Regions from separate parts of the Homo sapiens genome. Here regions 1 and 3 are each linked to region 2. Evidence: fine-mapped expression QTL. A gene starts in region 2. Each other region holds a variant in brackets. All regions are shown on one strand. Distances are from middle to middle. Region 1 has its middle 25 kb from the start of FAM89A. Region 2 holds the start of FAM89A (family with sequence similarity 89 member A). Region 3 overlaps ARV1 (ARV1 fatty acid homeostasis modulator).

The links. PIP is the estimated chance that this variant, and not a neighbour inherited with it, causes the effect. A credible set is the group of variants that fine-mapping cannot tell apart.
Region 1: its variant is the best candidate, but not a certain one, in a credible set for the expression of FAM89A in skeletal muscle (GTEx, PIP 0.57).
Region 3: its variant is the best candidate, but not a certain one, in a credible set for the expression of FAM89A in whole blood (TOPMed, PIP 0.71).

Annotation. Positions count from the first base shown.
Region 1 is chr1:231,060,757-231,068,938 of GRCh38, forward strand. No RefSeq gene overlaps it. Among named protein-coding and RNA genes, the nearest start is that of FAM89A, 25 kb to the left of the region's middle. RefSeq lists a silencer at 2,847-3,141 and a cis regulatory region at 4,839-5,309. The variant G/C (reference allele first, on the strand shown) is at 4,795.
Region 2 is chr1:231,035,917-231,044,098 of GRCh38, forward strand. FAM89A (family with sequence similarity 89 member A) reads right to left here and starts at 4,338. Exons shown (of 2, transcript NM_198552.3): 1 at 4,005-4,338. The coding sequence starts at 4,295. RefSeq lists an enhancer at 3,016-3,697 and silencers at 3,360-3,439, 4,080-4,129, 4,390-4,499.
Region 3 is chr1:230,985,383-230,993,564 of GRCh38, forward strand. ARV1 (ARV1 fatty acid homeostasis modulator) reads left to right here. Exons shown (of 6, transcript NM_022786.3): 2 at 2,938-3,057; 3 at 4,728-4,881. Among named protein-coding and RNA genes, the nearest start is that of ARV1, 10 kb to the left of the region's middle. The variant A/G (reference allele first, on the strand shown) is at 3,731.

The DNA.
Region 1 (8,182 bases), 25 kb after region 2:
TCTTAAACAAACACAAGGGAAGAAACACGTGACAAGCAGCTTTACATTGGGCCTGAGATTTATGTGTAAAGAGGGCTATGGGATGGATCCCCCGATACTTGGACAACAGGGGTGGTCTCTGCTCCGGCTCCAGGTCCCCTTCCCTCACTCCATTCTCTCCTATCATCCTCACCATTCCTAAGTGTGGTTTCTGCTGAGGACAAGAGGCCTTCTCATTTCCAAAGCATCTCAAAATCATGGACTACGCCAATTGCGTATCTACTCTTCCTGCATATATTAACCCTCTTATGGCGATTTAACCAGTAAGCGCTGAGGAGCACTGCACAGTTCTGCTGTCTGGGTAGATTTTGCTGCTGCCAAGAGATCAACTTCTAGAGATAAAGTACATTTGTTATAGGATATTTCCTGTTTCAGCCTTAAGATGTAGCCCATAAGACTAGGTGTGGTGGCTCACGCCTGTAATTCCAGCACTTATAGAGGCTAAGATCAGGTGGATCACTTGAGCCCAGGAGTTCAAGACCAGCCTGGCAACATGACAAAACCCCATCTCTATAAAAATACAAAAAGTTAGCTGGGCCTTGTGGCGCATGCCTGTAGTCCCAGACACTCAGGAAGCTAAGGCAGGAGAATTGCTTGAGCCTGGGAGGTGGAGGCTGCAGTGAGCCGTGTTTGTGCCACTGCATTCCAGCCTGGGTGACAGGGTGAGACCCTGTCTCAAAAAAAAAAAAAAGAGAGAGAGAGAGAAAGACCTGAGCTAGTGTGCTTAGCCCACTCACCATGGGATGCCCTGCACCACCTCCAGACAATGCAGAGAGTCCCCACCAGCAAAAAGACCCTCCTCAGATGCAACCCTTTGACCTGGGACTGCTCAGCCTCCAAAACTGTAAGAAATATATTTCTTTTCTTTATAAATTACCCAGTTTCAGGAATTCTGTTATAGGCAACAGAAAATGGACTACTAACTCTGATACTGCCCTGCACTCGTTAAGTTTTTCAGTACCCCAGTGCAGAACTGCTGAGGCCAGAGTCTAGGAGAGCCGCAATGAGGAAAGAGAGGCTGGCATGTATTCAAGAGGTCCTAGGGAAGTAGAATCACAGGAACTGGAAAATTGAATGGGAGGGAGGAGAGGAAAGGGAGAATAAATAACTGCAAGATTTCTGGACTGGGCAGCTAGATGCATGGTGGGGTGATGTGATCAAATAGGGACTACGTAGGCAGAGAAGGAGGAAATTTTGGAGTGAGACAATGGTTTCCATTTGGGTCATGTTGAGTTCAAGTTACCTGTGAGAAAATTAAGTAGAAAAGTATTATATTCTGGAATCTCTAGGGTCTAAGCTCAGAAGAGAGATAGCAGCTAGAGAATTACATGTGGGAGACATGAGCTTGGCTCGGGGAGGTGAAACCAGGTGGAGTGAGAAGAGAAGGCTAATAATGATATGCCAGGGAACACTGGCTCAGCCGTGGAGGCAGAACTATTTTGGGTTACTGATTTCCTAGACCATGGACTAAGGAATTGATCCTCTACTAGCATGTGCAAGGCTGAATCAGATGTCTCTTCTTCAATAAGGTTAGGAATTTCTTACTTCATAAAATAGGTAAAACATGAAATTCATATACCATAATGAATAATCATAATGCTACCTTATATGACTCTAACTCACAGCCTTTGTGTCTAAGGTCTTCTAAACCTAAATAGAACAGTCTCATTAAGGACAAAGCAAAAAAATAAACATCCCTGACATGGAAGAATGTGCTGCTCAAAGACAAACACTTGATTGAGACGCACAAGCGGCAACTTCTGAGCCTCAGAAACCCATTAAATGGTCTTATTCATGCATTTCTATGCACAGAAGTCTTAAGTGCTTAGGGGATCTTTTATTTTTTACTCCTCACTTCCATGCATTCATTTCTGAAGCCCTATGACATCATTAGATAAGCATCAGATGAGAAAATGCATCCCATGGTTTACCACAGGCAGAATATTCCATATATAATACTTAAGATAGCATTTTCCCACTGAACAGACCAAAGAATCCTCAACAGGCATATGCAGAAGCGGTCAAACAAGGGTTTTTCCCAGCACTCTTGGATGTTCTTTGAAAGGGCTAAAGTCAAAAGAATAGTAAAAATTTTTCCCAAATGTTATAGACTGAGCAATATCCCCCAAAACCTCATATGTTAAAATTCTAATCCCTTGTGCTTTAGCACGTGACCTTATTTGGAGTTAGGGTCTTTAAAGAGGTAATTAAGATAAAATGAGATCACTAGGGTGGGGTCTAATCCAATATGACTGATGTCCTTTAAGAGGAGGAAATTTGAACCTGGCCGGGCACGGTGGCTCACGCCTATAATCCCAGCACTCCAGGAGGCCGAGGCGGGTGAATCACAAGGTCAGGAGTTTGAGACCAGCCTGACCAACATTGTGAAACACCGTCTCTACTAAAAATACAAAAATTAGCCTGGTGTGGTGGCAGGCAACTATAATCCCTGCTACTCGGCAGGTTGAGGCAGGAGGTTGCAGTGAGCCGAGATCGTGCCACTGCACTCCAGCCTGGGTGATAGAGTGAGACTCTATCTCAAAAAAAAAAAAAAAAAGGAAATTTGGACAGTTACAGAGAAATGACGGATGCAGGGAGAAGACAGCCATCAGCAAGTCAAAGAGAGAACCCTCAAAAGGAATCATGTCTGCCGACACATTGATCTGGGACTTGCCAGGCTCCAGAACGGTGAGACAATAAATTTCTGTTGTTAAAGCTACCCCGTCAGTGCTACTTTGTTATGGCAGCCCGAGCAAACCAATACATCAAATAAGCAATATTTCATGTCTCTATATGACTATAAAGCAACAAATGGCTGGATATGGGTAGAGAATTCTAGCCTGCAATGTTTTCATGATGTGGGCCATAAAAGTGGATGCCGCCTTACAAATGGTTGCCTTAAATCCTTGGTGATTACAATCAATGCAATTCTTCAGTCCAGGAAAAAGACAAAGCTGCTTTCAAGGGAAGGGAGGAAACAGTAATCTGAAACTCCATCTGTACAATGACCAAAAATAAAAGCAAATGTGTTTGCAGTAGGCCTTGCCTTCTGCCCAAATTTTCTTTGGTTAAAACTGGGTAACTTGGCACCTCAGTATTAGCAGCCATTTATAAGTAATTGCTGGTAACGGGGAAAGTCAGACATCCAAGGCAGATGAGATGGGGAGAGGGGAGGCAGGATGTGGGGTAAATGTCCAAGATACTCACTTTGAGCTGGTCCACAGGCCCTTGTGTGAAAAAAATGCAGCTTCTCTAATCAGTGTTTTCTGAAAGTGAACTCTTTATCTTCTCTCATGGTGAGATTAAGTTTCTTTCGGAAGAAAGCAGAAGGAAATTTAATTTGCTTGCTCTCCTCTTTTTGATTTGTTTCCTACAGAAAAACCTAGTGAGTTGATTTTGAAAAAGACTTACACAATTATGGTTCCCTGGATTCTAACATATTTTCTCCTGCATATGGTTTCTAACTTTGGATTGCTTTCTTCTTTCTTTCTTTCTTTCTTTTTGACAGAGTCTCACTCTGTCACCCAGGCTGGAGTGCAGTAGTGCAATCTCGGCTCACTGCAACCTCCGCCTCTCGGATTCAAGCGATTCTCCTGCCTCAGCCTCCTGAGTAGCTGGGACTACAGGTGCGTGCCACCACACCCAGCTGATTTTTGTATTTATAGTAGAGACAGGGTTTCTCCATGTTGGCCATGGTGATCTCGAACTCCTGACCTCAGGTGAGCCACCTGCCTTGGCCTCCCAAAGTGCTGCAATTACAGGTGTGAGCACCGTGCCCAACCTTCTTTTTTTTTCTTCTTTTTCCTCTCCATCTGTCCCTCCTTCCCTCCCTCCCTCCTTTCCTTTCTTCCTCCCTTCTCCTTCCCTCCTTCCTTCTTTCCCTTCCTCCCTTCCTTCCCTCCTTTTCTTTGGGAGCAGAGGCTATCTTTAACATCCCTACACAGAGATATAAGATCCACTCTCCTGCTCAGCATCTTGCTACATTGTCTGTTAACCTCAATCTTGCCCATAAATTCTATCCAGTGCTGCAGTACCTTAAAGTAGAGTTGGGCTGTGACGTGGAGGAATCCTTGGCCCACCCAAAGTCACAAAAATCATTCATCCACAGATAGTAAAGTAGCATGAGGTGGAGAGGTGGCTGCCAAGAATATTTATCGAGCACCCCTCTGACCATCCTCTCTACGTGACCTCTTACCAGCTAATGTGATGGAGCAGTGTTCTGTTCTAATCGGTGCTAACACCCTTAACTGATTTCTAAGGCCAAATTGTTCTCCTATTTGGGGCCCAGGTCATGTCAGCCTTTTTCAGTCACCCCTGAACCACTCTCAAGGATTATTGGGGAATTTCTCTTCCTCTGATAATCTGTCCTATCACCCAGCAAAGGCGAGTTGTGGAGAAAAAGCCCCCAGGGGCCAGGCGCGGTGGCTCACGCCTGTAATCCCAGCACTTTGGGAAGCTGAGGCAGGCAGATCACAAGGTCAGGAGATTGAGACCATCCTGGCCAACATGGTGAAACCCCGTCTCTACTAAAAATACAAAAATTAGCCAGGCATAGTGGTGGGCACCTGTAGTCCCAGCTACTTGGGAGGCCGAGGCAGAAGAATCACTCAAACCCGGGAGGCGGAGGTTGCAGTGAGCTGAGATTGCGCTACTGCACTCCAGCCTGGGTGACAGAGCAAGACTCTGTCTAAAAAAAAAAAAAAAAGAAAAGAAAAAGCCCCAGGGATTGCCCGCCCCTAGCTCCCTGAAGAATAG[G/C]CGTGCAAAGGTGAAACAGAAGAAAATCCTACAACTATGGTGAGCGGACCCAAGAGGAAAGGGTGTGGGTCAACTGTTGTGCCTAAGAACAAAGAAAACAGCTGGGGTCTGAGGGGCAGTTGGTTGTTATCAGTTCTTCTAGAGGAACTGTTTTTTCCGGGAGGTGCTGGGATGGGCGTGGACGTGGAGGGACCAGCTTGAAAAGCAACTCCTTACAATCATACCCATCTTGGTTTGAACTCTCCTCCAACCACTGGCTGACAGTGAGACTGCAGACATCTCATCCCAAAGTGAAAGCCACACTATCGTATAGGGGTAAACGTAACTCTTCACACCCACCATCCTGTTACCAGGGTAGCTCTGATGAAATAACTGGGAAAGTTCCGTTTCCCTACTGTTTTTCTTTAGTGCCTTTATCTATAGACACAATTGCTTAAAGAAACCAGATGGCCTAGGATGCTGCCAGCACTTCTTGACCCTTAACCAAACACCAGAGGAAGATAAGATCCAGGAGAAACCGGTGCAAATTACAACAGGCAACCCCTCTTGTCTTTAGTTGATTAACATAGCGTTATAATGCTAAAACCCCCTCCCCTAAGAGAAGATCACCACTATTTGGTGTACATGCAATGTATGAAGAAGCATGTTTAGGAAGCATGCCCATGTGTCTGGAGTCTCACCCTGCACATGTTAACATACCTCTCCCACTCCACACCCAGTCCTTAAAAACCCTGCCTCCTGTTGCTCAGGGAAAGGATGCCTTTGGAATGAGAGCTTCCCTTCTCCTTTCTCTGGCCGATAAATAAAACCCAATTGCCTTTTCCAATTAGATGTCCTTTCTTTGCAACTGATGGGAAATTGGGAAAGAACTCAGTTTGCTGATGACAACCCCACCCTCCACACACATCAATGCATCTGAACCTAAGTAGGTGCTGTGAGTACTGAGAATGCTGGTGAAGACTGGAGAGCCTGACTGTGGATCAAAGGCCACAGCCACTCTCGGGGAACAAGGCCCAGGGAGACCCCTACACCTTCCCTATCACTATAGATACCAGAGCTTTGCAAGTCCACCTGACACATACAGCTGACACAAGCAACTGTTTGTCCACTCAAAACATACACCCCTAGGGCTAGAGAGCAGCAGCAGGAGGGCTTTCAAGGGAGAATACCAGAATGTCTAGTAGGTACTTGCTCAGGTAAATTTGGAGGGGCCTAAGGTCAAATATGATTCCTCCATCTGGCACAGAAGCTGGGACTCTTGATGGCAGCAGCATCCTAATCACAGAGGTTACACCAAGAGAGAGAACATAGTCTTTGCATGTGTCTCATGTCAACCGAAGAATAACTAGGTTCCTATGTTTGGAAAGGAGAGCTTCGTTTCTCATAAAGGGTTGCAGACTGCAAGGTGGCCATTCTGACAGGCTGGGAAGCGTAGCCTCCAGTCAGAAGCCAGAAACAAACACTTCAAGGGAAGGGCAAAGGGAACAGGAATCTAAGCTGGGCAGGGTGGCCTAACATACATATTTAATAAGCTAAAGGAGGAGACGTGAATATTCATAAAAAGAGCAGTGTACACTACACAGTTGAGCTCCATGCCCCTTTATGGGTCCCATGCATAAAAAGGCAACATTAGCATGATCCGAAGGGGCAGCTTTCAGTCCTCTGACATCAAAAGGTGAAGCAGAGGGCATGAAAACCTGTACTGTGCATTCTCCGAAAACTGGCCAGAGCCAATCCATGGTAGGTGATCTCTTATCAGGCAAAAGAGGAGAAGCAGTGTCCAGCAGCTGGTTGATCTCAGTGGTAGAGTCTTTTGAAAGGGCTGGTTTCTGTTCAGCCCTCAGGGAAAAAAGCTTCATTGCAGTTATTGAGGGAGAGGGTATAGCAATGTGTGTCTGATCTGCTATCCCATCACAGCTGAGAACTCAGTTTTCAAGGTTACTCTGGGCTTCCCATGGCCAAGCAAAGGTCCATTCAGTTAGGTGGGGGGCTTAGAATTTTTTTTTTTTTTTTTTTTGAGACAGGGTCTTGTTCTGTCACTCAGACTGGGGTGCAGTGGCATGATCGCAGCTCACTGCAAACTCTATCTTCTGGGTTCAAGAGATTCTCCTGCCTCAGCCCCCTGAGTAGCTGGAACTATAGGTGCATGCTACCATGCCCAGCTAATTTTTGTAATTTTTGTAGAGACAGGGTTTTTCCATGTTGTCCAGGCTGGTCTCAAACTCCTGAGCTCAGGTGATCCGCACATCTCCACCTCCCAAAGTGCTAGGATTACAGGTGTGAGCCACTGCTCGGGGCCAAGGCTTAGAATTTTATTTTTAGTTGACACTTTCATCTGACTTACTGTTGAACTAAACCAGAGGAGGTTCAGGGCTTGCAAGCTGACTGTTGCGGTCTTTCATCACTGGGGTGGGCTGGTAGGGGCAGGACAAAATTTGAAGGCCCCAGAAAGACCTCTGCTTTGCAAACCCTGATGTTATAGCCCTCATTTGTATCCTTCTGTGTGCTCTCTGTGGATTAGGGTCTAGACAGGAGGTAGCACACTGATTAGTTGGGAGCCCCAAATCCCCATGATGGAGGTGTCGTTTCCTACTGCAGTCATTTTTTGTGTTGTTGTTGTTGCTTGTTTGTTTGTTTTGAGATGGAGTCTCACTCTGTCACCTAGGCTGGAGTGCAGTGGCGCAATCTCAGCTCACTGCAACCTCCACTGCCTGGGTTCATGCGATTCTCCTGCCTCAGCCTCCCAAGTAGCTGGGATTACAGGCGTGTGCCACCATGCTCGGCTATTTTTTTTTTTTTTTTTTTTTTTTGTATTTTTAGTAGAGACGGGGTTTCACCGTGTTAGCCAGGATGGTCTCAATCTCCTGACCTCATGATCCGCCCACCTTGGCCTCCCAAAGTGCTGTGATTACAACTGTGAGCCACTGCGCCTGGCCTGCAGTCCTTTTTACACTGTGTTCACAGAAGCCCCCGATGCTCTCAGGAGCCCCTCCAGGGCACCCAGGCAGAGGAAGTGAGGATGTGGCATAGCAGAGCTCTGCACTGACGCCCTCCGTCTGCTTCAACAGAGCAGACACAATTTCTTCTACTTTCTGCATTTATTGGGTTTCTGGGTAGGATTTTATTTCAATAAAAGCTTATTAGTTAAGGTTCTTTGGCTGAAAGCTATAGAAACCAACTCAGGCAAATAAGCAAAGAGGATTTATTGGAAGTGTGTAGGGCTGGGGTGTTTTCCAAAACCAACAACCAATTTTCTGATTTTTCTGGACACTAGTTGGGTGTTCTACAATTCAATTTCATTTTCACACAAACTACCCAGAGTTAGCACAGACCTCACGGCTTAGGGGCTCAGTGCCGCAAGACACCTCCCCACCTCAGACAAAGCCAG
Region 2 (8,182 bases):
TTGTCACTGTTGGCTGGCCCAGGCTGGCCAGGCCACCTAAGCTAGGCCAATTGGCATCCTTCCACAGTATTTGCAAACTGCAACTAAGCAGCAAGGCCAAAATTGAGGGTGGCCACTGTTAGAGGCCAGGTTCCAAAATGGAGGGAAAAAACAAAACAGAGGAGGAGGGGAAGAGAATACCTCAGTGGACTTCCTGGATTCCCCATAAGCCCTAGTTCTAGCCTGTCTCTGTATACATCCAGTCTATAAGATTGTCCTTTTGAAAAAGCTAGTTCAAACTAAGTTTCTATTACTAATATAGAGTCTTTGGTCATGAAAAATGAAAACTAGTCTAAACTAAAGCAATTCTTTTTCTGTAAAGATGCCCACATCTACCAGGTGTGATAAGCCCCTTAACATCTAGATATTTCCTATTCACCCTTAAACCATCCACAGTACTTGCTATCTAACATACACCCAGTAATCATCTCTTAAACGTGATCTAAAGATATTCTCTGATGTAAAAATCATCATCATCAACTTTTTCAAAAGGACTTTTTTGGTCTGTAGAGCAATAACTATCTGTGTGACCCTTGAAGCTTTCCAAGTGGGCCCTTCTGGGGAGGGGACGAGGACTTACGAGTAGTGCAGAATTTCACAGGGGTTACTAGAACAGGAAGTGTTGAAACGTGGAGCTGAAACCACAACTCTCCAAGCAGAGGAGGGCATCAGCAGTCATGAGACAGACCCTTCTCAGCCCTGGGCTCCAGCTCTCCCAGCCTCCACCCTCGGCATCCGAATGGCCTCTCCTCCCATTGAGATGGTATTACTCCCTCAGCTCCAACCATCTCTTCTACTGGCTATCTCCAGACCAAAACCTCTCTTCCAGCTTCCAGCTCCACATTCTGAAATGTTTAACATGCTCTTCAGCTGATGCGATGACAAATTACCTTCCTCCCTAAAGCAGCTACTCCTCCTGACTCCCCAAGTGCCATAATGAACCCCACTTTACCAGTGATTGATTATTAAGCTTCAAAACCTTGCTAACTGCCATACAGTGGTATACTACACACTCACTGAAGTCATTATAATATATCTTGACTGGGAAAATAATTGCAATGTGCAGCCCAAAAAGCAAACCAAAATATATGTGATCAATGTGTTGTATATATGTATGTGTGTGTGTGTGAGAGTGCATGCATGTGCACAGACAGCAGACTGCAATGGTTAAATAGGGCTTTGGAGCCAAAGAGACCTGGTAGGGTCTGTGACCTTATGGGAGTTCAACTCTCAGCATCCAATTCTTTAATATAAAACAGACTTTGAGTATCTATCTCATGGAGAATTTATACCATTAAATAAGATACTATATAGAAAGCACTTACATTGCACCTAACAGAAGATATCCCAAAATACTAAAAGTGATTATTTCTAGGTGCTGGCACTGTAATTTTTAATTTTTTGCTTGGCTACATTTTCCATGAAAAAGCTTAAGTTATCTTTGATCCCCTTTTCATCATCTTCCTTGACTCAGTAATTCCTCCAGCTTCGGCTTCAGAAAAGTGTCTCCCACATGAGTCTTGTTTCACATTAGCAAGCCCCCTACCCTGCTGGGGACTCCATCACCTCTCCCATGAACACCTCTCATCTTCCTGTTGAGCCTCCAAAGTCCAGCTCTCCCTTCTGCACCCTGCTGTAGAATTCATTTCTTCAAAGTCCAACTGGGATAATACCATTCTCCTGCTGAATGCCCATCCTTGCTACTCAGGCTTCTCAGAGTCCACTCGGTCCACCTGCCCAGGCCCTTCTTGCTCACATTTCAAACTGGCGCACTCCCAGTTCCAGCTCCGCAGCTACCTTCCTGGTGCCTCTTTCCCTTGTCGAAATTCTGTCGCCTTCTGAGGTCTTCCACACCACCCTGCTCCCTGTCCCTATTAGAAGTTGCCCCTCTTTCTATGCTTGCTTTAAAAAAAAAAATTTCTTTAAGGCATTTATCACATTCTACCATGACATCTAGTTATGTCCCCTGCCACAGATTTGACGTCAGGCCTTCAATTTAAACAGATCAACACAAACTATTTTGCAGATATCTCAGGAATGAACTCCCAGTTCTTGTTTTGCAAGGCCTCCCCAGAGGGAGTCTCAGCTTGAGTTGTCCACTCAGACCCCATGGCCCCAAGTCAGTAAATCAATTAAAAAGCCGAAAGATTCTCTGGGCAACTTTAAAGGCCTTGTGACATTTCTTGAAAGGAACTTGTCAAAACCTGCAGCCATATCTTATCTTTATCTCAGCTAAATACCAGGCAGACCAAAGATGGCTGTTTATTTTTCTTGTGCTTCAAATAGGCTTACAGAGAGCTCTGGTCCAAGGCGTAATTATACGGATGTGGTTGTGCTTCAGTCACACCAGGAGGGACCTGGAAAAATACTTCTGGGAATGGCACGTTGACTCCCAAGCCACCATAGCAAGACTCCAGAGCATGTTTATAAACCACAGCTTCACAACAGGAGCGGCCCCGAGGTTTTTCTATCTCTTGCTCAAGTATGGAATTTAAATAATCAAAGATGATCTTCCTACTTCACCCCCGTGGTTCTGCTATGTCCAAGTTCAGACTGTAAACACACTACGTGTAGATTTATCTAATTAAAATGCAGTTCACCAGCTGTGTGATGCTTATGTCAATGAATGTTTTTTAATAAATTAAAAACGGTTGGCTTGGAATTTAAGTGGTTCTGTAAGAAGCTTAGAAAATCTTTTCAGTGAGAATTGGAAATCACTTCAATGCCAGCTACAGAGTAGGAAGACAATATCTCTTTGATTAAAAGTGTTAAGGCTGCTTTCTGAATTCAATTAAGTCTTAGTTTTCAGAACAGATAATGCTCCTGAAAAAAAAGTATGCATACCCTGAATTTTTCTAAACAATATCTTAAATGCACTAGATACATATTTAAAAGATTCCTATAACAATTTATTTTTTGGCAAATTTAGTTTTGGGAAAAGGCAGCTTTCCTAATGTTAGATTTCTTAACAATTTACCTATAGGGAAAGGAGACAACCTGGACGAGGTGAATGGAAAGGGAGGCTTTTAAAACGAGGGGATTGGGAGGAGGTGATGGGGGCCAGTAAGATGGTAGAAAAGAGGAAAAGTTTTTGATTTCTTCTTGCCTGGCCTACGCCTGGCCGAGAAAGCTGGGGAAAGACTCGCTGTTGCCTAAATCCCTGCCCTTGTCCTACTTTTAGCGTCACCCTAAATCATGTGTGTTCTGGTCCACAAACAGCTAATGTACTTCCCAAGCACAGAGAAACACTGAGCCCATGGTATGGAGCTTAGACACAAGGCGAAGAACTCACATGGACAGCACCCAGACCGGGAGGACAGCCACCTCCCACCTTTCTCAAGAGGGTTTGGGCAATCAGCTTCGCGGGGCTGAGGGACCCGGCCGCCTCCCTCGCCCGGGGTGCGCGTCTGCTTTCGCAGCCATCTGTGCGCCGGGGCCATCCCGCGGTAATCGGATCACGGACGCGCGGCCTGGGGCGCCGGAAAGGGGGCCGGGCTGTTCCAATCTGCTGTCTACACTGGCGGCGGACAAAAGTTGTCCTCTTCGTGGTAGGAAAACGCAATCGCGTTAATCCGTTGGGCCGCTGTGAAAGCCTTTCCCCCACCGGGAAGGTCTGTTTCACTCGGGGAGAGGTGACAAGGCCGCCCCCGCCCCCAGGCCAGGCACGAACCCCGCACAGCGCTTCCGGGCGCCCAGGTTTCCGAGCCAGCGGGGCCGGACTGAGGGCGCCGGGCATAAGAAAGCCGCCCTCTGCGCGCGGGGCTCTCCCGCGGGGGTTCCAATCGTGGGCACGGAGCACGCGAGAAAAATGGGGGTCGTTGGGAGGACGGCGCCGGCGCCTGGGGCGGAGGAGCCCGAAAGGGCGGGTGGGCGCGGGGACTTCCGGACAGAGCGCGGTCCCCGCGAACTTTCCCGGGACGGCGAGCCCGGCCGGGAAGAGCCCCAGCTCGCGGAGCCCCACTCACCATCTCTTTGCGGAGCAGCGCCAGAGCGGCGTCCAGGTTGGGAGGCTTGGCGGGCAGCGCTGCCGCCCGGGCCCCGCCGCCGCCCGGGCCCCCGCGGCTCAGCTCGTCCTGGATGCGCGACTTCTGCGCGTACAGCCGCTCCAGGTGCCGCCAGCCCCCAGACGCGCCGCCGCCCGACGCCGAGTGCAGCAGCCCGCTCAAGCTCTTTGGCAGCGGGGGCAGCCCGTCCACCCGCAGCCCCCGGACCGCGCCGTTGCCCGCGGCCCCGGGCGCCGCCCGGGCCCCACTCATCGCGCCGCGGCCCGGCCACGCGCCTGCCCCGCTGCAGCGAACCAAGGCTTTCCCCCGGCCCGCCCCCTTCCCGGCGGTGCCCCGCCCACTTCCCCTCCCGCGCCACGCCCCCCCGGCCCCGCCCCCTCTCCTCGAGGCCCCTGCGCGGGCCCCGGGTCCGGGTGGCGTCCGCGTCCAGCAGCCGGGCTCGCCTCCACCCGGGTCTCCTCCTCCCTCGCGCCCCTCCAGCGCCCTAATTCATCTCCAACTCCGCGTGACTACCCTCTAACCCCCCGACTCACCTCCAGCCCCGTCACGAACCCTTCTGTGCCACTCCCTAGCTCCGAACCTACTAAGCCCCCCGCGACCCGCAGCTTCCCGGTTCACCCCCATCTCTGTCCCCACCTCCTCTGAACCACCTCCCAGCTTCCCGGCTCACCCCTAGCTCCGAACCCTCTCACCCGCGCCACCCCGAACCCCAGCTTCCCGGCTCACCCGCATCTCTGTCCCCACCTCCTCTGTGCCAACCCCCAGCTTCCCGGCTCACCCCCAGTTCCGCCCCCACGCCCTCTGTGCCACCCTCAGCTCACTGGCTCACCCTCAGCTCCGAACCCACTCACCCCCCACCCCAGGCTTCCGGATCACCCCCATCTCTGCTCCCACCTCCTCTGTGCCACCCCCAGTTCACTGGCTCGCCCCCAGCCCCGTCTCCACTCCCTCTGTCCCACCCCTCAACGCCCGCTCACCTCCAACCCGGCTCCAGACTTCCCCCTTACCTGCCAGCGCTCCTCAGCTCCTTGCCTCACCGATCCCTGCCCTGCCCAGGGGGCGGCCCAGCTTCAGATCCCACGAAGCAGGCCGTTGCAGGGGGTGGGGGTACCGAGGCTCTGGCTCACAACCGGCAGGACGTCGAGGGCAGGAGGCCTGGCTCTGGTCCCAGGACCCCCGGCCCTCCCCGAGGGCGGAATCCAGCCCGCCTCCTGCTGCCTCCCACTCGCCGCGGGGGGCGGCTGGGGGCCCCAGACCCGGGCAGGTCGCTCCTTGCCGCCGGGCGCGCTGGCCTTCTCAGCACGGCCTTGTCCAGCAGTACCCGCAGCAGTCAGCAAGAACGCCAGACCCACTTTTGAAACTTCAAAACACTAGTAAACATGCCTTTCATTCTGGCCATAAACACAAGAGTAACTCTAAGTGGAAATGTCAGGAAACCAGAGAAAGGGATTAAATCTCGGAAATTATCCATCAGCTCAGGCAAAAATAAACACGACGCACACCTCAGAGGAAAAGAGAAGAGAGAGAGAGACTCTGCCCCTCCCAGGAAAAGTAAAAATGACAGGCAGTTATAACCAGATTAGAGATAGAAAAGATCAAGAAGTAAACGCTACAGCCCAACCGCAGATTAAAAACTAATGCAGTGTATAGATTGGATAACTTTAATGCCCATTCATTATTGGCTTTAATTATAAAGGGATTTAATTTTCTAGCTACATTCAAGGGGATCAAAATTATAAAGTGTTCTGAGCACTTCAGACACCCAACATAAAAGAGCCCTGCACTTTGGGTTGTTTTATACCCTTTACCACCTCCTAGAGCCCACCCCAGAAGCAGTGTCTTTGAAATTGGCACAATATTCTCCCTGGACGGTTGCAAGTGGGTGAGACTGATATGAAGAAGCTTTAGTGCAGGCGGTGTGATTGACAGCACCCAGGCTTCCCACCCCACCCACTGCCCAGAATTTTCCGCCTCTTCACTGTGCCTCACCTTCTACTAATTACCTAGTCACATTTCTGGATGTCAGGTATTTATTCATTCACTTATGTAAACGGTGGGTGTCTTCAGGAGAGTGACCAGTCTGCCTGTGTGGGAGTAAGGGAGAGGAAGGGGTGGGAAGCATTTTGACATTCGGTTCACACCTTAGCATGAATTTTTTTTTTTTTATGAGACAGTCTATCACTCAAGCTAGAGTGCAGTGGCGTGATCTCAGCTCACTGCAACCTCTGCCTCCTGGGTCAAGCAATTCTCCTGTCTCTGCCTCCCAAGTAGCTGGAATTACAGGCATGTGCCACGACGCCCGACTAATTTTTGTATTTTTAGTAGAAATGGGGTTTCACGATGTTGGCCAGGCTGGTCTCGAACTCCTGACCTCAGGTGATCCACCCACCTCGGCCTCCCAAAGTGCTGGGATTACAGGTGTGAGCCATCGCGCCCAGCCTGCATGAATTTCTTTAATTTCACTGGTTACAATGCAGTCTCACCTGTAGTACCTAGCAGAAATCACTCAAGGTAGGTGATAGGAGATTCAGCTATGTGATGGTGAAATAAGAAAAGAAATCACTTTGAAGTATCGGGGCACTGAAAGCATTTTAAAGCACATACTTCAGAGAATTACGGATTACAGAAGGAAAAGGAGGTTAGGGTCAGCTAGACAGCAGCATGAGGTCCGTGGTGTCAGGACTCGAGAAAAGAGGCACAACTTAGACAATGCCAACCTTACCAATTTTTTTTTTCTTTTTTGAGATGGAGTCTCACTCTGTCGCCCAAGCTGGAGTGCAGTGGCGCGATCTTGGCTCACTGCAACCTCCACCTCTCGGGTTCAAGCAATTCTCCGCCTCAGCCTCCCAAGTAGCTGGGATTACAGGCACCCGCCACCATACCCATCACCATCTTGGCCAGGCTGGTCTTGAACTCCTGACCTCACGATCTACCCACCTCAGCCTCCCAAAGTGCTGGGATTACAGGCATGAGCCACCACGCCAGGCCAACCTTAACATTTTAAAGGCAGGCTCTGCGTTCTGGCCTATACTCAGTGAGGTAAGAGTATTGAAATCAGTATCAACAAATAATATCCCAGGGTAAGGAGAAGTTTCTACAGAATTTCTGTGGTGCTGGTGAAGACATTATTTGTACAAGCCTGAAACTATTATATAACAAATATTTTGACATCCTTGGGGAATGTTAGTGTCTGTTTATTCAAATGCCAATATAAAGTACCTTTTAAAGTTCATGCTTATAATGAGAGAGAAGTAGTAAATAACTTCTGACAGTGTGTTTTTTTGCATTAAGCCACTGAAACATTACCTTAGTCCATTTAGGCTGCTATAACAAAATACCTGAGACTGGATAATGTGTAAAGAACAGAAATGTATTGCTCACAGTTTTGGAGGCTGGAAGTCCAAGATCAAGGCACCAGCTGACGTGTGTGCTGAGAGCTCATTCCTCATAGATTTCACCTTCTGGGTGTCCTCACATTGCAGAAGGGGCCAGGGAGCGCCCTCAAGCCTCTTTTACAAGGGCACTGATTCCATTTACAAGGGCTTCACCTTCATGACCTAGACACCTCCCAAAGATCTCACTTCAATACCACCACATGGGGGTTAGGTTTCAACATATGAATTTGGGGCTGGCAGGGGGCACATACATTCAGACCATAGCAAAACATCTGTATTCTGAGTTCAAATCAGAGTGAGTCTTCATCATCACCCATGCAGCTGAATTAGTCTTTTCTGTTTTGTTTTGTTGTTCACAGGCTCTTGGAAATCAGAAAACACAAACTTCTAATCCAGTGCTCTATTCATTAACCCACATCTTTTCTTAGACTTTGTCAATCAAGGTTAGGGACCTGGGCCTTGGAGCACAAGCCTCAGAGTCACCAGTATCCAGGCATTTACTTAGAGATTATTCTCATGTGCCTCCATCCTGACCTTCCATTAACCCAGCCACTAGGTTCCTCCCCACCTCTAATCTCTGCCCACTTGTTGTTTGCTTTTGGGAACTCTAAAGAGTCTTTTTGTGCGTTTTATTTATTTTTGTTTTTTTTTATCATTCTCAAGTTTAATAACTTAGGTTGTTAATAGACTAGAAAGAACCTGAAAAAGACACCAGAAGTCCAACTGAGCTTGCCTTTTCAAGCT
Region 3 (8,182 bases), 51 kb before region 2:
TGCTTCTAAACTGTTAGATCCTTGAGGATAGAAACTGTGGCTGAAGGTGAATATCTAGCACCTTGGAAGTTCCTGGTCCATAAAATGGCCAAGAAAAGAGAACGATTGTTATACATGTAATAGCCACTCCAAAGACATTTGTCAAACAAATGAATGCAAAAGGAATAACAGCTGCTGTGTCTCCTGGTGCTGGTTTCTGCCTACCTCCTTCCAAGTATTGTCCAGATCCCCAGCCTTAGACTTGTGATGCTGTCCAAAAACGGGTTTTAGAGAATATTTAAAGGACAGAGAGAGGACCCCTGACTTTTTAGGGTTTCCATTTTAACATGAAGCAGCCTCTCTGGTGTCCCAGTCTTGCATGTAGAAAGGAAGGAGATGTGTTCCATGTGAGTAGCCAAGGGAGACCTATCAAACAGCTGTTTGTCATGGACATGGAATTTCTGATTCTGGGGCTTCTGTTTAGATTCTGGCTTACTCCCTGCTCAGGTAAAGAACTGCAAAAATATTAACTCCTTATGCGTCAGTTTGATTAAGCAGAATTTTTTTTTTTTTGAGACGGAATCTTGCTGTGTTGCCCAGGCTGGAGTGCAGTGGCGTGAACTCAGCTCACTGTAAGCTCCGCCTCCTGGGTTCACGCCCCATTCTCCTGCCTCATCCTGTAGTTGCTGGGACTACAGGCACCTGCCACCACGCCCTCCTAATCTTTTTGTATTTTTTTTTTAGTAGAGATGGGGTTTCACCATGTTAGCCAGGATGGTCTCGATTTCCTGACCTCGTGATCCACCTGCCTCGGACTCCCAAAAGTGCTGGGATTACAGGCATGAGCCACCATGCCTGGCCCTGATTAAGCACATTTAAGTTTGAGGTAACAGCACGTCTCCCTTCATTGGATCACTCGGTAACTGGAAAACATACCTATTCTTGTAATGACACAAATGAAGTGGAGAAGCTATTTAAATTGGGAACACATCCAATGTTTTATTACATTTGAATTGCAGGGTCGGTATTCTTCAGTGCCCTTCATTTTTCTTCCAGCACTTTAATGTAATTAAAAGGCCAGCCTAGAAGGTTTTTACACTCGCAACTCTTCTATTTTATCTTCTCAGAGTTTCCAAATGTTATGCGTTTGAATTGTAGCCATTCCAGTAGTCCCCGTTCTCTTTGGGGTATATGTTCCAGGACCCACAGTGAGTGCCTGAAACCACAGATAGTATGGAACCCAATTACCATCCATCGGAACACGTTTCTGTTCGTGCCTTCCACCCACAAATGTAATACTTTTCCTATTTTTTTTTTTTTTTTTTTTTTTTTTTTTTTTTTTTTTGAGAGAGAGAGACCGAGACAGGGTCTTGCTTTGTTGCCCAGGATGGGCTCGAACTTCTGGCTTCAAGCGATCCTCTCACCTCGGACTCCCAAAGTGCTGGTATCACAGATGTGAACCATGGCACCTGGCCCTGCCTTTTCCATCTTAGCACTTCTCACATACTGTGGCCTTAATTTTTGCAGTTTGAAATGCCACAGCAAAACTAGCACAATTTCTTTTCTTTACAGTTGCACAGGTAGAAGATTCATTCTTACTGTAGATCTTAACCTCAGCATAAGATTGGTTTTTTCCTTATTAGTTGAGAACTTTCACCTTTTCACTTAAAGGATTTTACAGCTTCTCTTTGGCTGTAAAATTGCCAGCATCACTACTCTCATGCTTTGGGGCTATTATTAAGTCAAAGAAGGGTGACTTGAACCACAAGCACTGCAGTACTGCAATCCTCAATCCTGTTAACCTGGACAGCGACTAGATGACTAACAGGCGGGGAGCATCTGCAACGTGGACACGCTAGACAAAGGGATGATTCACATCCCGGACAGTGGAGCAGGACAGCATGCAATTTAAAACTTATGCTTATTTCTGGATTTTTCCATTTCATATTTTCAGAATGCTGTTGACCTCGGGTTACAAACTGCAGAAAGCAAAACTGTGGCTACGGGAGGACTGCTGTAGTTTTATAAAGTGAATGGTAGCATTGATGCATTTTTGTGAATAGTACTGCTTTAGAGGTCACATTTCTAATGAGCTTGTTTGTGTATACCTGCGTTTTTTATGTTCTAGTGATGTTGGAATTTGGTAACATTGTAATCACATGTGTCTAGAGAATCTGAACTCAAAATTGGTGACCCTTCAGGGGGGAATAAAGCCATTTAATGTGAACTGCTAAGAGCCAAGGGAGCCTTGATTCTGGAACCTAGAGCTAGGCTGCACAGCCTAGTTCCTTGCACAGCCCAGCACTCTCCAGACTGTACAGACAGTAGAGTCTGTCTCTACTCTAGCAGAGAAAGACCATTTTCTTTCCATATCCTTGATGTTACTGGAGAAAAACCCAGGCTTCCCCTGTTACCGGCCACCTCAGGATCATTCGGATCATGCCCCATTCTTTACCTACTTGCAGCTCTCAGTAGTTCTGGGGACAAGGTAACTGCTGAGTACTTTTCTCCAAATCATGTGCCAAGAACCATAAAGTCAGGGGCATCTAGCCAAGAGGCAACAATTTATCAATGAAAGTGCATTATAAATATATTTATTTTGTAATAATTGCTACAAATTGAAAGTGGAATTGGACATAGAGTCTCTGTAGATTGAAAGTAAAATCTTCTGGAATACTTTCCTGCCTAAACTCAGTCTTTAAATTAGATATATTTTTAGCTTCTTGAATATGACGTTAAAATATTAATATTCCTAGCCTAGAAGATTATATTTAGTCCTTTCTGAAACCCTTTCTTATATAGATGAACATTTTGTATCTGAATGGAAGTTTATATAAATAATTGCTAATATGGCCATATTGCTATCTGTGTCCAAAATAGACTCTGCTGTTTTGAAATCCTTGAGGATTTCAGAAAGTATACATTTGCTTGTTCTAATATTATCTTGTATTATTTCAGAAATCCTGCCAGAAACCTGTAGACAAATATATCGAGTATGATCCTGTTATCATCTTGATTAATGCTATATTGTGCAAAGCTCAGGCCTACAGACATATTCTTTTCAATACTCAAATAAATGTAAGTTGTGATAATTTCATTTTTTAATTTTATTTGATGCTGTTACATTTTAAAAGAATAATAAGAATTTTAAACAGAAGTAAAGAATATTATAAAAGAGGAAAAGAAATTCTAATGTGAGAGTGGGTCTTTTATTGCAACATATCTGGAAGTTTCTAGAAATAATAGATGTTGATTTTGAAAGGTGCACAATGCTTAGTGAGTGTTTAAGAATATGGTCACTGGCAGGAAACTGACAAGCCATGATCTGAATTACCTGCTAGTAAATTGAAACAATCATCACTGGTTTTTAACAGAATACAATTAGACATATCCAGGTAGGGAGAGAATTATACCTAAATGAGTTAAGCAAACATTAAAAGAAAAATGTTTTTTTAAAACATAATTTATTGCATTTTATACTTTGCTATTAAAGGAATGTATAAGGTAAATAACATTCAGTTTAATCAAAGTCCTGATTTATAAAGTTGAATTTTTCAAAATAAACTTTTAGTTTATTGAATTGTGAGCTCTTTAATAGTTTGGGTAGAGTTGACAGATAACATACAGGACAGTCAATTAAATTTGAATTTCATATATACCATGAATTAATTTTTTAGTATAAGAATGTCCCAAATATTGCATGGAACATACTTATACAATAAAAATGGATTCATGGTGTGTGTGAAACTCA[A/G]ATTTAACTGGCGGTCCTGTTATTTTATTTATTTATTTATTTTTGAGACGGAGTCTTGCTCTGTCACCCAGGCTGAAGTGCAGTGGCGTGATCTCGGCTCACTGCAGCCTCTACCTCCTGGGTTCAAGTGTTCTACTGCCTCAGCCTCCCAAGTAGCTGGGATTACAGGCACGCATCACCAAGCCCAGCTAATTTTTGTATTTCTAGTAGAGATGAGGTTCGCCATGTTGACCAGGCTAGTCTGGAATTCCTGACCTCAAGTGATCCTCCCACCTCAGCCTCCCAAAGTATTGGGATTACAGGCATGAGCTACTGTGCCCAGCTCTTCCTCACTTTATATTGATGGAGAAAGTTCAACCTGAAGGAGGAATACATAGAAAAAAGCCAATTTTTGTTGCCTAGTATTTTTTATTTTAGCCAAAATTTCAGACTTTTAAGAATTAGGTTTTAATTGTTCTCTTTTAACATATTGAGTCATACTCATCCAGCTGGAGATATTTTTAAAAAACTGATGTTCAGACTAATAGTTTCTTATTCAATATCATGGAATCTTCAGATTAAGTCTATTCTCTTATTGCTGTTCCCACATATACATGAATCACATAAGTTTTTTGCTTGATTCTGTATAAAGGACAGAAATCAAAAATGTATAATGAAAGGTGAACTATTATTTAAAGCAGTGATTCTTAACTAGGGGTGCACATTAGAATCCCCCCAGAACTGTTTCAAAGTATGATGTCTATGTTGTACTATGAAGATTCTCAATCAGGACCTGGGCTCAGACATTTAAATTTTGAAAAAAATCTCCCCATGTGCTTCTGATGGACATTGCTGATTAAAACTCACTGATTACAAAATGACTACAATTAGCCACTTAATTGGGCAGTCCTGAATTTGAAAAGTGACTAGGTGGGATGCCACAAATACTCTGTACCTGTTGATACTAGTGCAACTGGGTTTCCTTACCTAATTGAATGGCAATGTCTTTGACTATCAGATCCATGGAAAACTCTGCATATTTTGTTTGCTTTGTGAAGCATACCTGAGGTGGTGGCAGCTTCAAGATTCCAACCAGAATACTGCCCCTGATGACTTGATCAGATATGCTAAGGAATGGGATTTCTATAGAATGTTTGCGATTGCTGCTTTAGGTAAGGAGATGCCATGCTTTCCATTCTTAGTTAACTATTCTTACTTAACTAATCTGGTTAAAACTAAGACATGTAGTCTTAATTGTTGGTAAGAAGAGCTAGTTAATATGGGACTTAAGATGAAATTTTCAGCTCTACCACTACTAACCTACGAGGTGAGTGTGTTTGAATCACCTGCTTTTTAAAAATTTGTTACCACGTATATGGTATGGAAGTAGTTATGCTTATCGGATTAGAAAGTTTCATAAAATATTTCGAAGCACAATATTGTTGATAAAATTCTTTTATTTTTATTATTATATATTTTTTAAGACAGGGTCTCACTCTGTTGCCTAGGCTGGAGTGCAGTGGCACAGTCACAGCTCACTGCAGCCCTGAACTCCTGGGCTCAAGCAATCCTCCTGCCTCGGCCCCCCCAGGTAGCTGGAACCACAGGTATGCACCACCACACCATGCACCACCTCCAGCTAATTTTTGTATTTTTTTGTTGAGATGGGGGGTCTTTCCGTGTTGCCCAGGCTGGTCTTGAACTCCTGAACTCAAGCAGTCCTCCCACCTCAGCCTCCCAAAGTGCTGGGATTACAGGTGTGAGCCACTGTGCCTGGCCAATAAAATTCTTAATGTTTAAGTTTTGATTATCCAATCTGAAAGTTAGCTAAGTCCTATCTTTATTAATAGAGATAATTGCCAGACATTACCCAATGTATTGTACTAATTGCATTATACTAATGCAGTGTATTTAATAGGGTTTGGTATTTTTTGTTACTTGTTACTTATCTGAGTGCATGCAGGGAATTTGGCTACTCCTCAAAATTCCTTAAGTTCAGGAAGTGCTTTTCAGAATTTCACTTCATAAGTTATTGTTTTCCTAGTGTCAGAATTGTGTTGAGCTAATTTCTGTGACTATTTTATTGCTAGTTCCATGCTTCTCTGCTTCTCAACTCTTTGATTATAATGAAATCTTACTTTAGTAATACTAAGTCTCCAGTCCACTCCAATATCACATTTCTGGGCTGTGTGTCTTCTTTTGTCCTCTTTTTTTCTCTGTCTGCTCTCGCTCTCTTGGTCATGTAACCTGTCTGCTGAGAACTCTCAAATGTCCATCTAGACCTTTCTCCAGACCTCCAGACTCTGCATCCCTCTGCCTTCTCAACATCACCACTTGGATATCTAATAAATCACCATACCCATAATTGAGCTCCTCATCTCTCTGCCTCTACCACAGCCTTCTCCTTCTCAGTTGTAACTCCATTCTTTTAGTTGCATTCACCAGAAAACCTTGCAGTCATCCCTGATGCCTCTTTCTTTGATACCCCATAGTCAGGTCATCAGGAAATCCCATTGGCTCCACCTTCAAAGTACTTCTACTTTTTTTTTTTTTTTTTTGAGACGGAGTCTCACTCTGTCGCCCAGGCTGGAGTGCAGTGGCGCGGTCTTGACTCACTGCAACCTCTGCCTCCTGGGTTCAAGCAGTTCTCCTGCCTTAGCCTCCCGAGTAGCTGGGATTACAGGCACGTGCCACCATGCTTAGCTAATTTTTGTATTTTTAGTAGAGACGGCTTCACCATGTTGGTCAGGCTGGTCTCGAACTTCTGACCTCGTGATCCGTCCGCCTCTGCCTCCCAAAGTGCTGGGATTACAGGCATGAGCCACTGCGCCCAGCCACACTTCTACTATTATACTACTGCTACCCTCCATTCCCTCCACGGCTGCCACACTGTTGCAGGCCACTCTCATCCTTCACCTGCATGACTACAGTAGCCTCCTTGTTTGCTAGCCCAGTTCTCCAACTGTGTATTTGCACGCAACACAGAGTAGTCCTTTTCAACCAAATCAGATCATGTCACTGTTGTGCTAGAACACAGTAGCTCCCCGTTTCACTCAGAGTGCAAGCTGAAGTCTTTACAGTGGGCCTTGTACTGGAATCTGCCCCTCCCACTGCGTCTCTCATTTTATCCACAGCTGTCATCTCCCATGTCTACTCTGACCCTCCCCATCTAGTTAACTTGCTTCAGAAACACTGGATGAGCTTCCACCTTAAGGCCTTTGAAGTGGCTCTTCCTGTGCCCGGAATGCCTGTCCCCCTGATGCCCAGATGTCTGACTCCTGCATACCCCTCAAGAGTTGGCTAAAATGACACTTTCTAAATGAAGTGTACCTCTGACACTCCTGATCTCCTGTTCCGGCTCTACTTTGTTTTTCTTATGGTACTTACTATTTAACATATCACAGAAGTTATTATCTTTTGTTAGTGCCTTTCCCCACTAACATGTCAACTGAATGAGGTCAGGGCTCTTTGTGTTAGTCACGGTTGTAGCTCAAGCACTTAGGTGCCTGGCCCAGGTGCTTAATAAATATTTGCTCAGCTGATTGAATGAATGATTGCATACATTCATCCACGCACTCTTAACTTGAGCAAGTCACCATCAGTTACACTCGGTGATTATTCATTCACTATTCATTATTATTCATTCCCTTAAGAAATATTTTTAAATACTTATTAGGTGCCAGTTACTACTTTAGGTACTTTAGGTACTAGAGATATATCCATGGAAAATACATAGAAAAATCTCCGCCTCCATTATTATGTAATTACTAAGGCTTATGACAGCTTAACCGCCATGATGTCCAGTCTATCGATAATTTTGTATACAATTTGGACTTTGCAACAATTTAAAATATTTGAAATATACAAAAGAATATGTTAACCTTTTTATCTTATGAAACATAATACTACTGAAAACATCCTTGAGCACATCATCTAGCCCAAGAACTAGAACCTAATATGATTTTAAACCTTAAAGCAAAGCCTCTTAAAAATTTTTTTTAATTTTTATTTTTTTAAGAGTGAAGGTCTTGCTCTGTCACCGAGGCTAGGGTGCAGTGGCACAGTCATAGCTCACTGCAGCCTGGAGCTCCTGGGCTCAAGGGATCCCCCTGCCTCCGTCTCCTGAGTAGCTGGAACTACAGGTACATGCTACTGTGCCTGGCTAATTTAAAAAAAAAAATTTATGTAAAGGCAGTATCTTACTCTGTTGTCCAGGTTGGTCTTGAACTCCTGGGCTCAAACAGTCCTCCCATATGGGCCTCCCAAAGTGCTGAGACTGCAGGCATCAGCCACTGTTCCTGGCCCTTCTTAAAATTTCTAAAGATAAACTGTTATATGTCCATATTTTGTATATACTATTAAAAACCAGGCTTGTTTTTAAATGGGTTGGAATTCTTATAGCAACTACTCTGTAGTAGATATTTTGATGCTTAATCAGAAGTTTCTTTCTACTATTACTTAACTTTTTTATGT